Regions from separate parts of the Homo sapiens genome. Here region 1 is reported to be linked to region 2. The links are microRNA targets in miRTarBase. Many come from high-throughput screens and were not tested one by one. Region 2 holds a microRNA gene; the other region holds the end of a gene's coding sequence.

What was found. Region 2 holds the annotated microRNA hsa-miR-4288 (UUGUCUGCUGAGUUUCC, at 3,041-3,057, shown strand). A microRNA usually pairs through its seed, bases 2 to 8, with sites in the 3' UTR of a target mRNA and lowers its output. Matches are read on the target gene's strand: a 7mer-m8 pairs with bases 2 to 8, a 7mer-A1 pairs with bases 2 to 7 and ends in A, and an 8mer does both.
Region 1: miRTarBase lists PET117 as a target of hsa-miR-4288. Seed matches in the 3' UTR shown: 7mer-A1 at 886-892 and 7mer-m8 at 1,048-1,054.

What each region holds. Positions count from the first base shown.
Region 1 is chr20:18,141,497-18,145,897 of GRCh38, forward strand. It overlaps PET117 (PET117 cytochrome c oxidase chaperone), which reads left to right. Exons shown (of 2, transcript NM_001164811.2): 2 at 712-1,673. The coding sequence ends at 861. It overlaps KAT14 (lysine acetyltransferase 14), which reads left to right. Exons shown (of 11, transcript NM_001392073.1): 2 at 712-1,423; 3 at 3,737-3,855. The coding sequence starts at 1,165. Among named protein-coding and RNA genes, the nearest start is that of PET117, 5.8 kb to the left of the region's middle.
Region 2 is chr8:28,503,782-28,508,182 of GRCh38, reverse strand. MIR4288 (microRNA 4288) reads left to right here and starts at 3,001; the gene lies at 3,001-3,067. The region is part of intron 3 of FZD3 (frizzled class receptor 3); the gene reads right to left.

The sequences.
Region 1 (4,401 bases), not on the chromosome of region 2:
TCAGCTAGGATAAGTGCTAACAGAAGAGTAGTTTAGAGTGTTACTGTAGTAACTCGCCAAGTTTTTAAAGCATTACATATCAATTAAACTTTAAAAATTTAACATTGGCCGGGTGCAGTGGCTCACGCCTGTAATCCGGCACTTTGGGAGGCTGAGGCAGGTGGATTACTTGAGATCAGGAGTTCGAGACCAGCTTGGCTGACGTGGTGAAACCCCGTCTCTACTAAAAATACAAAAATTAGCTGGGCATGGTGATGCACGCCTGTAGTCTCAGCTACTCGGGAGGCTGAGGCCGGAGAATCACTTGAACCCAGGAGGTGGAGGTTGCGGTGAGCTGCGGAGTGCAGCCACTGCACTCCAGCCTGGGCGACAGAGCGAGACTCTTGTCTCAAAAAATAAATAAAAAAAAATTTAACATAGTGCCAGTTTTTTTTTTCTGTTATTTCCCATTAAATTTTCTGTACTAAATGTTCAGGAATTTCTTAAAATATGATAAGAAATCATTTCAGTAATAACATTTAGCACACTACCAAATTTATTTGATCGTTTATTACATTTTACATTTGTACAGAAAATTAAAATAGTAACTGGGTATTTGGAATCTGAAAGTTTTAAGTATATTTTGGTAACACTGTTATTTGGATTTGAATGGCACAAGGATGGGGACCACCTGTTCGGGATGTTACTGAAATCTGTTTCTTACGTTTTTAGAGGCTTCGTGACGGAGTTATCAGAGACATTGAGAGGCAAATTCGGAAAAAAGAAAACATTCGTCTTTTGGGAGAACAGATTATTTTGACTGAGCAACTTGAAGCAGAAAGAGAGAAGATGTTATTGGCAAAAGGATCTCAAAAATCATGACTTGAATGTGAAATATCTGTTGGACAGACAACACGAGTTTGTGTGTGTGTGTTGATGGAGAGTAGCTTAGTAGTATCTTCATCTTTTTTTTTGGTCACTGTCCTTTTAAACTTGATCAAATAAAGGACAGTGGGTCATATAAGTTACTGCTTTCAGGGTCCCTTATATCTGAATAAAGGAGTGTGGGCAGACACTTTTTGGAAGAGTCTGTCTGGGTGATCCTGGTAGAAGCCCCATTAGGGTCACTGTCCAGTGCTTAGGGTTGTTACTGAGAAGCACTGCCGAGCTTGTGAGAAGGAAGGGATGGATAGTAGCATCCACCTGAGTAGTCTGATCAGTCGGCATGATGACGAAGCCACGAGAACATCGACCTCAGAAGGACTGGAGGAAGGTGAAGTGGAGGGAGAGACGCTCCTGATCGTCGAATCCGAGGATCAGGCATCAGTGGACTTATCGCACGACCAGAGTGGGGATTCCCTCAACAGTGATGAAGGAGACGTGTCTTGGATGGAGGAGCAGCTGTCCTACTTCTGTGACAAGTGCCAAAAATGGATACCAGCCAGTAAGGAGCTTCTCAATTCCTTTGATTTGTCAATTCCTGTGTGAAGGTTTGTTTTTCCAACCTGTGAAAGAAACGTGAATGTAAAAGAGACCTAAATAAAAGGATAATTATATTTATTCTCTAGTTGATCAGCTATAAATTTATATAAAACATAGGCATGTTTGTACTAATGAAACGTACTGTCAACCTCTATCACATTGTTAAATTAACACTTTTGGTGGTAACTCAATAAAATTGAGAAAATTGGAAATCCTGTGTTACTTAAAGAATTAGCCATATTTTTCTAACAAGGTCACAGAGATTTAGGGCCAAATTCCAGTCCCAGTGTTGAATTCATGTTCAAGTTTATAAAAATTACTTTGTTAATATTTAACTTACGTGGAGAACTCCTGCTATTGTATACTGAAAAGAGGTTAGAATTAGCAGATTGAAGGTGTTTTTTGCCCTTTTTCTAGGACCAGTCTTTTTTTCCATTTTCCTTTTTTTCTGCTGGCAAGAGATACCTCATACACACTCCCTGATTGCCTCAATCTTGAGATTTTCTTTTCTTTCTTTTTTTTTTTTGAGATGGAGTTTTGCTTTTGTTGCCCAGGCTAGAGTGCAATGGCATGATCTCGGCTCCTGGGTTCAAGCGATTCTCCTGCCTCAGCCTCCCAAGTAGCTGGGATTATAGTGTTTGCCAGCACACCTGGCTAATTTTTTTTTTTATTTTATTTTTTTTTTTTGAGACGGAGTTTTCCTCTTATTGCCCAGGCTGGAGTGCAATGGCATGATCTTGGCTCACTGCAACCTCCGTCTCCCAGGTTCAAGTGATTCTCCTGCCTCGGCCTCCCGAGTAGCTGGGATTACAGGCATGCGCCACCATGCCCGGCCAATTTTGTATTTTTAGTAGAGATGAGGTTTCTTCTCCATGTTGGTCAGGCTGGTCTCAAACTCCCAACCTCAGGTGATCCATCCGCCTCGGCCTCCCAAAGTGCTGGGATTACAGGCATGTGCTACTGTGCTCGGCCCTGATCTTGAGATTTTCAATGGCCAGCTTCCTGGCACCTGAGGAGTATGGCTTGCCAGCCATCATATGGTTTATACCGAAACAGGATTTTCCCATTAGGCAAGAGACTAGTAAAGATATAGGTACTTGAGGAATGCCTTTGTGTAATATAATTTGTAACCAAGTCAGAGAAATACATATATAACTGTGAAGAGGGTCATTTTCTGGCATGTGGAAATGTTTTTCTTAAAATGGGTTCAACTTCAAATTTAGTCACTGTTAACAAATTAATAGTAACATTTTCACAGGAAATGCAGAATTTACTAGTTAGCTGGTTTTTGCTTCTGAGCGGTCTCTGTTATTGATTTCAGGTTCTGCCTGAATTCTCAGTGGCTTTCCCTTTGTCCTGTTGAGGACAAATTTTAAGCTACCCTTTGTGGTCAGGACCCTGCTAACTGTAGTTTCTTTGATTCCCACACAACTTTGCAGTTAGGGTGAACTTATTCTTCACAAACAATTCTTATCCTTAGGGCTTTGCACAGTTTTTTTCTTCTGGAATATGCATCTCCACAGCCTCCATTCTCCCTATACACAAAGAGACCCCTTTTCACCTGGCCAATTTCTAATCCTAAGCCTCCCCCTAATATAGGTTGGGCCTCCTTTTATTTACCCTCACACTGCCCTGTGGTACACAGCACATTCCATTCCTTATGTGTCACAGAGCATCAGCATCACCTGAGGGACTAAGAAATGTAACTCCTAGGCTCTGCTTCAGAAATTGATGCATTTTATCTGGGCTAGAATCAAGCATATTTAGAAAACCAAGAACAACTTGGGTGATTCCAATGCACTGTGAGCATGGAGAACCACTGTGTTGTTGTGATCACCTGTTTTCTATGCAGCCCTCAGGGAAGTGCAAACCTGTGAGATCAGGCACCATTATCTGTCTTGGACTTTGTATTCCCAGTTCCTAGCCCAGTGCCTGGTATGCAGAGGGAGCTCATATTTTTTGAAAGAATGTGTGAAGAGACCTGCCTCTGGGAGTCAGGAATGTGACAATTGGGAAATCCAGCAACAATACCTGCTTTTCCAGTACCTTTCTCCTAAAAGTTACTGGATCCTACAGATCTTAGTGGGCGTATACTTGGTGTTAGAAGAATAGAAATCTTTCTAATTCCCTTCCTTTTCCCCATTTTGCAATTGTGGGTTGGCTGAAGAAAAGAAGACAACATGGGAAAGGAAAATCTGGGTGATAAACGGATTAAACCTTTAGGTTACCGCTGCTCTAGATAAACCCATGATGTGACTTTTTGTTTTTCTCCTAGGTCAGCTGAGGGAACAGCTCAGTTACCTTAAGGGTGATAATTTTTTTAGGTTTACTTGTTCGGATTGCTCAGCAGATGGCAAGGAGCAGTATGAAAGGCTGAAGCTGACATGGCAGCAAGTGAGTAAAAAGCCCTTCCCCAAATCCATGAGGGTGGTTCCCCCAGGAGTTTGTTGGAACGAATATCTAGAAACTTAGGGATGAGCTTTTGAGTTGTTTGGAGGGGCACTTTTTATTTCGCAATGAAATTAGATACCGAATATGTGGAGAAGGGAGTGAAAAATACTCGCTGTAATCCCAGCACTCTGGGAGGCCAAGGCGGGCAGATCACCTGAGGTCAGGACTTCGAGACCAGCCTGGCCAACATGGTGAAACCCCATTTCCATTGAAAATACAAAAATTAGCTGGCTATGGTGGTGGGCCCCTGTAATCCCAACTACCTGGGAGACTGAGGCAGGAGAATCGCTTGAACCTGGGAGGCGGAGGCTGCAGTGAGCCCACACCGTGCCACTGTACTCCAGCTTGGGCGACAAAGTGTGACTCCTTTTCAAAAAAAAAAAAATATATTCACTGCTGACTTGGTGAATTGGGCTTGAGAGGCTTGAGAATCTCATGATTTCTTTTATATGTGATACCAAGCTCTGATTATAATTGAAAATGAAATTC
Region 2 (4,401 bases):
TGGCTCATGCCTGTAATCCCAGTGCTTTGGGAAGCCAAGGCAGGAGGATAGCTTCAGGCCAAGAGTTCAAGACCAGCCTGGGCAACATAGTGAGATCTTGCCTCTACAAAAAAAAAGTTCTTTAAAATTAGCCAGGCATGATGGCATGTACCTGTAGAACCTACTTTGGAGGCTGAGGTAGGGGGATTGTTTGAGCTTAGGAGCTTCAGGCTACAGTGAGCTATGATTGCTCCACTGCACTCCAGCCTGGGTGACAGAGCAAGACCTTGTGTCAAAAACAAAACACTCAGGAGCTACCATGTAGAGGCTCCCACTACCAAAGATGGAATATTTTGAGCCTCAATAATCACTGTGATAGATTTAAAACATCAAATATGTTAAAAAAAAAAAAAATCCTTGAGTTCACAATGAAACTTAAACCAAAAAAAAAACAAAAACCCTCACTGGTCACCTTTGATGGATGCTTGGGAATCAACTAATTATTCTAAAAACTAATAACGGGGGAACATGCAAGCACTTATCCTATCTTTCTTATATAAACTGTATATGAAAGTAATCCAATAGTCAATGAGAAGTTTCCAAATATTCCAGCTAAGAAATGAAGAAAGGGTGACAGAATTAGAGTATCACCATTTTGCAAACCCCTAACAAAACTATTGGTCTAGGAAATCATCAATGGCTGCTAACATTTATAAAAAGAGTAACAACTTAATATTATGTGCTCCTGGCAGGAGTATGTTAGCTACCTATGAAGTATTCCTTCCAAAACAACAATAAAAAACCAAACTCGTGTCTAATCAAGCCTCTACAGTGCCTGTTTACAAAAATAAATGAGACAGAGACACGGTAAACAACACCACAGGGATGCAATCAGCAAAATAAAGACTATGGGAAACTCTATAAGATAAATATATCACAAGAAAAAAGGGGAACAGGAAAGGAAAACCTATAAATTAAAACAGACTTAAGAGACATATCAATTGGATGCAATGTATGAACCCTGATTAGAAAAAGCCAGTATGAAAAAAAATTGTGAAATATGCAAGAGTAATTTGAACATTAATTTGATACTTGACACTGATAAAGGAATAAAGGTATTGTGTTCATATATTTTGAAAGATACCTTACTTTTCGGAGGTATATAACAAAATATTTATGGATGAAATTTTGATATACGAAATTTGTTTCAAGGTGACCCAGAAGGGCATGCAGTGATAATGAAACAAGACTAGCTATGAGTTGGTAATGTTTAAGGCTGGATGCTGGATACATGGCACTTCATTATATTATTCTATTTGTATATAATGGAAATTTCCATAATAAAGTTTTTTAGTAAAAAGCTCAAATTTGAGTTTGGATAACTGAGAGACTGGTTGAAACATACTCTGTTCTTAATGAACCATAAAAGATACAGGATGTTCAGGCTTTTAGGCTCTGTGTTCCTACTAGGATTATTTCACTGCCAGCTTTCCATGCTCCCATTATAAGAAAACCTTAAATCATAAAAAAATCTTTAATGAGAATGACAAAGGAAAACAGGAAACGGAGGCAAACACAAACCATTCCAGGAGTTTTTCCTCTGATTATCCTATAGAGAGGCCTACTTTCCTCTATATATGGGGTGGGGAGGGGCAAGCAATCAACCTCCCAAAGAGATTAAAGATTGCTCGTTCCACACACTAACTGAAATGAAAAAACAGGGTGACAGGCAACAAAGAAGAATGCTCTGTATTCACACAGCACTTTAACTTTTCAAAATTCTTTAACATAAATGCCACTTATCTCACTTGATCTTAACAATAACCCTATAAAATGGCAGGAAAAAAATTTACTTCCTATTGGAAATCAACACAAAGAGGTCTCAAACCTAGTTAGTGACAGAATACAAGTCTCCTATCCCTATTCTAGTGCTTCTTCCACTAATCTGTTCCCGTCCTAGCCAATTTGGTTCAATTATTCAGTATGAGGAAAAGCCTGCCCAGATCTCTTTTATTACCACTAGAGTCGTAAATACCTGATAATAGGTGGCTCAGTAAAGATTGCTACTGACATTTGTTGATTATTGCTCCATGCTGAACAGTTCCCAAAAATTTACTTAGCAATTTGGACAGCTCAAAATGGTTTGGAAGGCTCAGAAGTGAGCATTTTTTTCCTATCAAAAGCTACTCATACACAGGGGAAAAGAGAACGTCAAGTTAACAACTTAGAAAAACGTAGCATGTGTGTTTGCATATTGATGTGCACGTTTTGGAAGGCAGAGATAAAGAAATAAACATATTAGCAAGAACCTTCTTTTCTAACTTAATGGATTGACACTTATCTATTTAAACATGTCCCAATCTCAATAAAAGTACAGAGTATGTACCCTGTAGACACAATGTAAGAAGATCCAACTTGTTGATTGTGAATAAAACTTAAAATAACCCAGATTCTGCTCTTTCTCCTATTTGTGGCTAATCTAGCTTACTGCCCACATACCATTGTGTTCCAGGCACTCCTTTTAACTCACAAAACAGTAAAGGAATGGACTCCAGCCAGGCGCGGTGGCTCATGCCTATAATCCAGCACTTTGGGAGGCCCAAGTGGGTGGATCGCTTCAGCCCAGGAGTTCGAGATCAGCCTGGGCAACATGGCAAAACCTTGTCTCTAAAAAAATACAAAAAAATTAGCCAGGGGTGGCGGCACACACCTGTAGTCCCAGCTACTTGGGAGGCTGAGGCAGAGGATCACCTGAGCCTGGGAGGTTGAGGCTGTGGTGAGCCATGATTGCACAACAGCACTCCAGTGTGGGCCACAGAGTGAGACCATGTCTCAAAAAAAAATAAAAAAAGAAAAAAGGAATGGACTCTAGGCAGGCTTAAAGCCTGGGGCCTGCTGAAAGATGCTACACCTAGGAAACTGTCTTTGAATTCATTCAGTCTCACAGCAAACACTCAAGAGTGTGCTGGGTTTGCTCCAATTACTTGTGCCTGCTAAGCTGGTTCCTGGATCAGTAGAGGGATGGAGGTGGAGAGTCATCAGCAGCACTGAGCAGGCAGTGTTGTCTGCTGAGTTTCCACGTCATTTGCTATTAAAGAAACGTTACACTCTCAAACTGTGTTTGATTATTCTTTCTGTCAGTGGCATCACTGTCCTGATACGATAAACATGCAATATGCAACTATTCCCAACATTACTTCAAGTCATTAGAGCCTTCTCTTAGAAACTATTACTCACTTAGGTGCTCTCCCCAGAATGTCAGTGTCTGAAATTCAAACAGAGGCAACCCCATTGTCACTGAAATATCTAGACTACTTGTGCATATTTGAGAAGTCAGAGAGAGCCTATCATGCTATCACTATGAATGAATGCCCCATGAACCTACAATGAGGGATGCAAATTCACTGGAGCAAATACATGGTGTTTCTAGTACTTCCCTTTAGATGATTTAGAAATGGAATTTGGAGTAGAATTAATATTTGTGAATCACCTATTGCGTATGATGCATTGTGCTAGCTACTTCATAAATCTCTTATTTAATCCTAACAGCCCTTCAAGGTGTATCATTATACTGCCTTTTCACAAATGAAGAAAACAAAGATCAGGAGTGTTAAGTAACCTGTCCAAAGTCTTAAACCTACTACATGGCAGAGCCAAAAGTTGAACCCAAGTCAGGACAAACATCTTTATGACCTGCTTCTTATTAACCTATTTGCTTCCCAAAGGAGTTATGATTTAAAATGATACCAGAAATAAAAATGTTTCTAGTTCAATTTTCTGTGAGAAATTGATAGCTTTAATACATAGCAAAGACTACCATGCCTGGAACCAACTTACTGTATTAAACCAATACCCATTTTTATATATCCTAATCTGATAGCCTATACCAATTCTCTCTCTTCAACCACTTAGACCTCGTGTACTCAGAGGAAAAGCAAAAAATGTTTTGTTCAACCTCTACAGCATTTTCAAATATTTGGAATATATAAGATGCCCTCCTTATTTCAAAATCTATGAATAATAATCTTACAAATTTTCTTAGACTTAGGTTAGTCTCCCTTAAAATGATGAACTTTTCGGTTTTATTATAAAATGAAGAATTCCAAAACATGTAGGCTTCCATTTGCTGAAAGCGCTATGGAAATAGGCTGAAGAGTAATGTATCAAACATTCCCTCTAAATTATGTTATGTAACCACGTTAATATGAGAATATGAATTAACGGTAAAAGCTATCACTTATAGAGTACTTACTATGCGCCAAGTACTATACATGGATTTTCACTTTGTACCTTACTGAAGTCTCTAAGTTACAAGCAAAGAAACTATGGTGAGAAAGTTCATATAACGTGGCCAAAGTATACAGCTAGAAAGTGGTAGAGGTAGAATTCAAACCCAGGTTTGTCTACCTCAAAGCCTATGGT